3 separate regions of the Homo sapiens genome follow, and all the other regions are linked to region 1. Evidence: fine-mapped expression QTL. A gene starts in region 1. Each other region holds a variant in brackets. All regions are shown on one strand. Distances are from middle to middle.

Evidence for each region.
Region 2: its variant is fine-mapped to the expression of BIN2 in whole blood (TOPMed, PIP 0.96).
Region 3: its variant is fine-mapped to the expression of BIN2 in whole blood (TOPMed, PIP 0.98).

The regions. Positions count from the first base shown.
Region 1 is chr12:51,322,847-51,325,605 of GRCh38, forward strand. It overlaps BIN2 (bridging integrator 2), which reads right to left and starts at 1,328. Exons shown (of 13, transcript NM_016293.4): 1 at 1,176-1,328. The coding sequence starts at 1,256. LOC105369767 (a long non-coding RNA gene) reads right to left here and starts at 1,162. Exons shown (of 2, transcript XR_944957.3): 1 at 882-1,162; 2 at 1-357. RefSeq lists an enhancer at 854-1,043 and a silencer at 1,074-1,563.
Region 2 is chr12:51,165,735-51,168,493 of GRCh38, forward strand. The region is part of intron 1 of TFCP2 (transcription factor CP2); the gene reads right to left. Among named protein-coding and RNA genes, the nearest start is that of TFCP2, 6.0 kb to the right of the region's middle. The variant T/C (reference allele first, on the strand shown) is at 1,284.
Region 3 is chr12:51,278,793-51,281,551 of GRCh38, forward strand. BIN2 (bridging integrator 2) reads right to left here. Exons shown (of 13, transcript NM_016293.4): 13 at 2,246-2,736. The coding sequence ends at 2,707. Among named protein-coding and RNA genes, the nearest start is that of SMAGP, 9.8 kb to the left of the region's middle. The variant G/C (reference allele first, on the strand shown) is at 1,367.

The sequences.
Region 1 (2,759 bases):
CCTCCCTTCCATTGTGGTCTCTTAAAGTCAGGAGCTACATCTACATTCCATCAGTTTTCTGCTGATAAATCAACTCGGGAGAGCTGGTTGCCTTTAAGCCTTCCCAGGGCTCAAAGCAGTGCTCCACTTTTAGAAGATAATAGGGATATTTCAGTTGGTAAGCAGAGCTGTTCATCCAAATGCTTCTAAGTCCATCAGCTCTTAGAAAACCAAAACTTCTCCGTTGTAGAAGGCAGGTTGGGCTTAATAAAGAGAGAGAGAAAAAAAGGAAAACCGAAACTCTATCTCAGGTCCTTCTTGTCTTTCTTCCCTCGCTCTTTCTTCTGGCTGACATGTCTTCCCAAACCGCCTTGTCTACTAGAGGGTTGGTAGGTGGAGAGCAGAGGCTCAGGTTAGAAGCAAAGAAAATATTCTGTACAGGTAGAAACAAAAATGCCATCAAAATGTGTAGAGAATGTCCCCACAATTTAGATTGCCAAGCAAGTAATAGATGGGCAGCCCACCTAAGTGCCAGTGCTGGAGCAGGGCTACCTGACACTAACCAAGGACACACTCTGAACACAGATGTGGTTCATCACCCTGGGAGGTGTACTCCCCAACGCCAAAGGGAGGGTAGAAGAAGCAGATTTGGGCTCCTGCTTACGTCAGCTGAAACACCACCCAGAGGCCAGGCAGGGTCAGGTAGGGGGAGAACTATGCAGGATTATTCTAAGCCTTTGGTGGGGGGTGCCTGCTGGCATCCGCTGCATCGCTGTTTTTGGGGAAATTGCCCTCTATGGAAAATTACCCTCCAATTTCATCATCTGTAAAATACCAATTTTGGATTGCTAGCACAAAATTTGATACAAAGGTGGCCACCACCATCACTTCCTTTCTTTCACCTTTTCTGGGTCAGCCTGAGGGTTGTCGAAGGTTCTGCCCAGAGACTGTTGTCTCCCCAGCTTCCCTTATCCTTGCCCAAGATCGGGTGGCGGTCTCCGACCTCTCTCCAATCTGCCAGTTTTCATGGAAGCCCACTCCTCGCTCCCGTTTCCCTGGGAGAGCGGGAGACCCTTCTCGTCAGCCCAGACCCTTCGGGGCCCCTGAGCACCCTGCCCGCCCCTCCTGCCCGGCCGGGCTCGGCCTCGGCCTCGGCTCCCTGTGGGCCAGACAGACAGCGAGGCCCGGCCACCTACCTTCTCCTGGGCCCTGCTAAACTTCTTCTGCACCTGCTTGGCGAAGAGGCCGGCCGCGCCGCCTGCCTTGCCCTCTGCCATCCTGCCAACTCCCTGGGGGCCGCCGCCCTGGCCCCGCGCCCTGTGGTTTTCTGAGGCCCCCGAGGAGGAAGTGCGGGCTCCCGGCATGCCTCGCATCCGGCCCCAGCCCTGAGCCACCTCAGGCCGCCCCTGGCCAGCCCTGAGGCCCGCCCCTCAGCCCACCACTGTCAGCTGGAGCAGGCCGGCTCGGAGGGGCGGGCCCGGGGCCTACCCTCAGGCAGCGCTCGCTCGAGGCCAGCTTCCGAGCTCCAACCCCTGCCCGAAACCTCGGCCTCACTGAACCAGGTCCTCAGTGGTGGGCCCACACTCACTCGCTCCGGAAAGCCAGTTCCCATCACGCTGAGCACTGCAAAGCAACTGCCACCGCAGGGTAGAAAATGATGTGGGTTCCACTCAGCGAGAGGACCTACCATATCGAAAACACGTTTAGGTTCTCTGAGTATGCATGCGAAGCCGCCATGTACACTGCGTTTCTTGCTCCAGGTAGGCTCTAAGCCTGGAACTGGTAGGGATAGAGTGCAGAAAGCAGGCAGGACACCCGAGCCGGGCTTGAAAGAGAGAAACAGGCCGGGCGCGGTGGCTCACGCCTGTAATCCTAGCACTTTGGGAGGCCGAGGCGGGTGGATCGCCTGAGGTTAGGAGATCAGCCTGACCAATACGGTGAAACCGCGTCGCTACTAAAAATACAAAAATTAGCTGGGTGTGGTGGCGCACGCCTGCAGTCCCAGCTACTCGAGAGGATGACGCAGGAGAATTGTTTGAACCCGGGAGGCAGAGGTTGCAGTGAGCCGAAATCGCGCCACTGCATTCCAGCCTGGGCGACAGAGCGACAGTTCGTCTCAAATAAATAAATAAATAAATAAATAAATAAATAAATAAATGAGGAACAACTAAGCTGGAGATAGAAACAGGGTAGGGGGCTGGTTCTTAGGCAAGAGAATGATCACATTGAAAAAAGGCTGAGGAGGATAGTATGGACGCCCGTGCTGAGCATGAGGAGCAAGTTTTTCTAGTTGGAGTACAGTGTACTGGATGGAGGCAGAATGTGAACACAGACACAGATTGTGCAAATTGGGGTGCGGCTGTTGAGATGACAACTATTGTTTCTTTAGGGAGAAGTTCTCCAAAAAATTCCTCCCTGACCTGTTTGAGGGGATAGCTTGAGATTAGGACACTAGGTGTGGAGGAACCACGTACTCAGATTTTACAGTGCAGGTTAAAATTTCCTCAAGGCAGGGAAGAAGGTCAAAATAACACTTCCTAAGGAGTGGAGGGGGAAGATAGGGCCTGACACAAAATTAGAGGCCCTTGTATGCTACTGTGTTCCTCTTCTTTCTCCAAAACAATCATTACTGCACTCAAGGTCAACTGTGTACCAGGCATTGCTGGGTGTTCTGAAACAAGGATGAATAAAATGCAGTCCCTGACCTTAAGATGCTTAATGAAGTCTGGCCGGGCACCACGGCTCACACCTGTAATCCCAACACTTTAGGAGGCTGAGGC
Region 2 (2,759 bases), 160 kb before region 1:
AAGGGTTAAAATGATAGAATTTTATGTTATGTGTATTTTACCACAATAAACACACACATACACACATATTCAGCAAACTAGGAATAGAAGGAAACTTATTTAACACTAAAACGGCATTTATGAAAAACTCTGAGTAGGGCATGGTGGCACATGCCTGTAGTCCCAGCTACTCAGGAGGCTGAGGCAGGACTGCTTGATCCCCGGGAGTTCGAAGCTGCAGTGAGCCATGAACATGCCACTGCACTCCAGCCTGGGCAACAGAGTGAGACCCCATCTCAAACAAACAAACAAAGAAGTTGGCCAGGCATGGTGGCTCACATCTGTAATCCCAGCACTTTGGGAGGCCAAGGCAGGTGGATCACCTGAGGTCAGGAGTTTGAGACCAGCCTGGCTAACATGGTGAAACCCCGTCTCTACTAAAAATACAAAAATTAGCTGGGTGTGGTGGTATGTGCCTGTAATCCCAGCTACTTGGGAGGCTGAGGCAGGAGAATCGCTTGAAGCTGGGAGGCAGTTGCAGTGAGCTGAGACCATGCCATTGCACTCCAGCCTGGGCAACAAGATCGAAAACTCCATCTCAAAAAATAATAATAATAATAAATAATAAATAAATAAAAGTTAACATCTGTGAACAGCCTGGGCAACATAGCATGACCCTGCCTCAAAAGAAAAAAAAAGGAAAGAAAAAAAAGATGACATCTCTGACTGTGGGTCACTATATTAACAGATGCTTAAAGTTGTTTTTCAGGAATTAGGGGACAGCTCTTACCCAGTTGAGACCACCAATCCCTCAACTGGACCTGCATGAGTGCCCAAAAAGTGACCTTTTCATGTCAGAGGGACAAAAACTCCACACTTAGATCATGTTAACACTGCCATTTTCTGCACATGGCCTATGAAGAGCAATGTAGCTCAATTACGCTTGTGCAGAAACCTTGATTACCTCACCTTTCCTACCTGCCAATCACCTTTCCCCATGCTTTAGACCACCCTGCGTCCTACCCCACAAATACTGCCAAGCCCTATTTTCAGGGTGCCAGATTTGGGATTTGCTCTCCTGTCTCCTCATTCAGCAGCCCTATGAATAAAATCTTGTCTCTTTTGCAAAACCCATCATCATAGTGATTGGCTTGCTGCACGTGGGCAGGACGAACCTAGTTTGATATCATAACCATCATCACAAACAATTTTAGAACATTTTTAACACCCTGAAAAGAAACTCCATTCCCACTAGTAGTCCCTCTCCATTCCCTCCTCCTCCATAGTTCTAGTCAACCACTAAT[T/C]TATTTTCTCTACAGATCTGCCCATTCTAGAAATGTCATAGAAATGGAATCATATGTATGTGGTCTTTTGTGACTGGCTCCTTCACTTATCATGTATTCACAATGAATCTCCTTTTCCTTTTAGTATAAAGTTTGTGCCACAATAAAAATATAAGAAAAAAAGAATAATAAAAGGACCACTAATAAGGATTAAATAAATCTAATTAAGATGACTCTTTATAAAATACAAATTAATAGATTTGAAGATGAAACCATCATAAGATGCAACAGAAAATAAACTAGGGTAAAACAAATGTGTCAGAGAAGATATTTTATAAAACAAATTGCTTGTCAAAGAGAGTATTTTCCCTAATAAAGATGTAGAACGTCAGACTGATTGACATTTTTTTTTTTTGAGACAGTCTCGCTTTTGTCCCCTAGGCTGGAGTGCAGTGGCTCGATCTTGGCTCACTGCAACCTCCGCCTCCCAGGTTTAAGTCATTCTCTTGCCTCAGCCTCCCGAGTAGCTGAGATTACAGGTGTGCACCATCATGCCCAGCTAATTTTTGTATTTTCAGTAGAGACAGGGTTTTACCATGTTGGCCAGGCTGGTCTTGAACTCCTGACCTCAAGGTGATCTGCCTGCCTCAGCCTCCCAAAGTGCTGGGATTACAGGTGTGCACCACCATGCCTGGCCTGATTGACTCTTAGAACCAGTTGGCAAAGATTATTGCTGGAGGGTGGCACACTAAGATCCAAGGTCTTATTAAAAGGAGAAATAGGCCTGGGAACCGCGGCTGACATGTGTAATTACAGCAATTTGGGAGGCCAAGGTGGGAGGATCTCTTAAGGTCGGGAGTTAGAGATCAGCCTGAGCAACACAGCAAGATCTAGTCTCTACAAAAAGTAGAAAAACTGGCCAGGTGTGGTGGTGTGACCCTGTAGTCCTAGCCAGTCAGGAGGCTGCAGCAGGAAGATCACTTGAGCCCAGGAGTTTGAGGCTGCAATGAGCTACAATCACGCCACTGCACTCTAGCTTGGGTGACAAGAGTGAGATGTCGCCTCCAAAAACATAAATAATAAGACAAAATTAAAATTAAAAAAAAATAAAAATCAGGGCTGGGCACAGTGGCTCACACCTATAATCCCGGCACTTTGGGAGGCCAAGGGGGAAGAACTGTTTGAGCCCAGGAGTTCCAGAACAGCCTGGTCAACATAGGGAGACCCTGTCTCTGCAAAACATTTAAAAATCAGCCAGACATGGTATCTCATGACTGTACCCCCAGGTGCACTCCAGCCTAGGGGACAGCTACTTGGGAGGACTGCTTGAGCTCAGGAATTCGAGGCAGCAGTGAGCTGTGATTGAGCCACTACACTCCAGCCTTGGCGACAAAGCAAGACCTCAACTCTAATGAATAAATAATCAGATTTCTAGTCTGTGCCCCAATCACTGGAGATGGGACCCTGTAAACTGGTGTTTTGTTTTGGTTTGGTTTT
Region 3 (2,759 bases), 44 kb before region 1:
GCTGGGATTACAGGTGAGAGCCACCACGCTCAGCCCCAACATATCGTTTATTGCTTAATTTTGTCAGTTTGTCGCTTGCAACCAGAGAACCCACATAAATATACTTCTTTCTGCAGTCATTGTTAAAAGGAAAGACACCACCAAGTTCTAGTCTCTCAAGCCTAACTTAGAATAATTCCTGGCCAGGCGATGGCTCACACCTGTAATCCTAGCACTTTGGGAGGCCGTGGCAGGTGGATCACCTGAGGTCAGGAGTTCGAGATCAGCCTGGCCAACATGGTGAAACCCCATCTCTACTAAAAATACAGTTAGCAGGGCGTGGTGGTGTGTGCCTGTAATCCCAGCTACTTGGAGGCTTAGGGAATCACTTGAACCAGGGAGGCGGAGGTTGCAGTGAGCCGAGATTGCACCATTGCACTCCAGCCTGGGCAACAGAGCAAGACTCCATCTCAAACAAAACAAAACAAAACAAAAGAAAAACACCTCACTTTTCATCATGTGTGCCCTTCTAGCCCGTCACTAAATCTTGCCCATTCTGCTCCTTGCTCAATATTCTGTCTCGTTAAATATCTTATTTTTAACACCCCTCATCATTGTTTCCCTGGTTCCTAGTACTGGTACTCAGTGCTTGGTAGACGGTTGATGCTCAGTAAATGCTTGCAGAATGACTGAACGAATGGTGATATCATCACCTCTAAAAACAAGAGCAAGGATGGAAAGGTTTTGGCATTTATGTGGCATTTATCAAGTTGGCAGGACTTCAGAGCTATTTTGAAAATGTCACAAATATTTTCATATAAAGTAATGATAGGACTTGAATCCAAGACTTCCTTTTTTAATTTTTTCTTTTTTTTTGAGACAGTGTCTTGCTTTGTCACCCAGGCTGCGCAATCTTGGCTCACTGCAACCTCTGCCTCCCAGGTTCAAGCAATACTCCTGCCTCAGCTTCCTGAGTAGCTGGGACTACAGGTGTGCGCTACCACGCCTGGCTAATTTTTGTATTTTTAGTAGAGACGGGGTTTCACCATGTTGGCCAGGCTGGTCTTGAACTCTTGACCTTGTGATACACCTGCCTCGGCCTCCCAAAGTGCTGGGATTACAGGTGTAAGCCACCGTGCCCGGCCTTTTTTTTTTTTTTTCTTTTTCTTTTTAAGACAGAGTCTCCCTCTGTCACTCAGGTTGGCATGCAGTGGTATGATCGTTGCTCCTTGCAGACTCAACCTCCCAGGCTGGAGTGACCCTCCCTCCTCAGCCTCCTAAGTGGCTGGGAGTATAGGTGCGCTCTACCGTGCCTGGCCTAGTTTTTAAATTTTTTGTAGAGATGGGGGTCTATGTTGCCTAGGCTGGTGTAAAACTCCTGGGCTCA[G/C]GTTATCCTCCCGCCTCAGCCTCCCAAAGTGCTGGGATTAAAGGTGTGAGCCACCACATCCAGCCCTTTAAAATTTTTTTTAAAAATAAGAGATAGAGGTCTCATCATCTTGCCCAGGCTAGTCTCCAACTCCTGGGCTCAAGCAGTCTTCCCCTGTTGGCCTCCCAAAAGAATCCAGGACTTCTGACTCCAAATTTCATGCCATTTCTAGGATAGGATTTTTTTTTTTTGAGACAGTTTCACTCTTGTTCCCCAGGCTGGAGTGCAATGGCACAATCTTGGCTCACTGCAACCTCCGCCTCCTGGGTTCAAACGATTCTCCCGCCTCAGCCTCCCGAGTTGCTGCGATTACAGGTATGCACCACCACGCCCGGCTGCTTTTGTATTTTTTTAGTAGAGACAGGGTTTCTCCATGTCGGTCAGGCTGGTCTCGAACTCCCAACCTCAGGCGATCCACCGGCCTCGGCCTCCCAAAGTGCTGGGATTATAGCTGTGAGCCACCGCACCCAGCCGATATGATTGTTATTATTATACTTTGTATCCTTTCAGTTTCATATCTTCCTCTCTTGTGCTCAGACCCTTACTCATACCAAGTACTAAATTGTAAACACCAGATATAGCTCTAAAATGTTATTACCCCTTTCCAAGTGTATCTGTTTATCAACCAAAGTGGGGAGTGGGGAGCACATGCAGGATTAAGGAGAAGAGTCTGTGGCCCTTGGTATCATAAAAGAATTACAGTCAGGAGTTAGGGTGAGCTGGGGGTCAGGGATGTGACTAAACCTTTCTGAACCTGGGGCAGAATCAATAACCATACCTAAGTGGAAAACAGTGTGCTGGGTTGCAACAATGCCCTTTGTCAAATAAACAATCCACAGATAGTCAGAATCAGACTTTATTTAACAATCTGAAAATGTGTTCTTCCGGCTTTAAGTCTTGCAAAATGGGTCGTAAGTCAAAGACAGATTTGTTCACTATCCTCTGAGTGTGTGTGGTTATGTCTCTGTATAGGCAAGTGTCTGTGTCTATAGATACTTTTGCTTTTTATAGTGATTAAAGCTCCACTTTAGTTAATGTATAAAGTCTTATTCTAATAATGCTAAAACCAGAATTAAATATTCCCTGAGTCTAATGTTCTCTTCTCCCCAGCCTGCCTCCCTCCATCCCTCCCGTAAGGCTGCTCCTCCGCCTCCATTAATGCCAGGTCTTTAGACAGCACCAGCATTCCTACTGAGAACCCAGGGATGGATGCTGGCTCTTATATCCCTCTGACCTATACCCTCTGGTTGAAGAGCTTCTCTGGCGAGGTTTGGGGCAGGAGGAGTCTTGGTAGTTTCTCTTCAGAGTTGTGGATTTTCACTTGTGGATACCTGGAAAGTAAACATGATTGTGT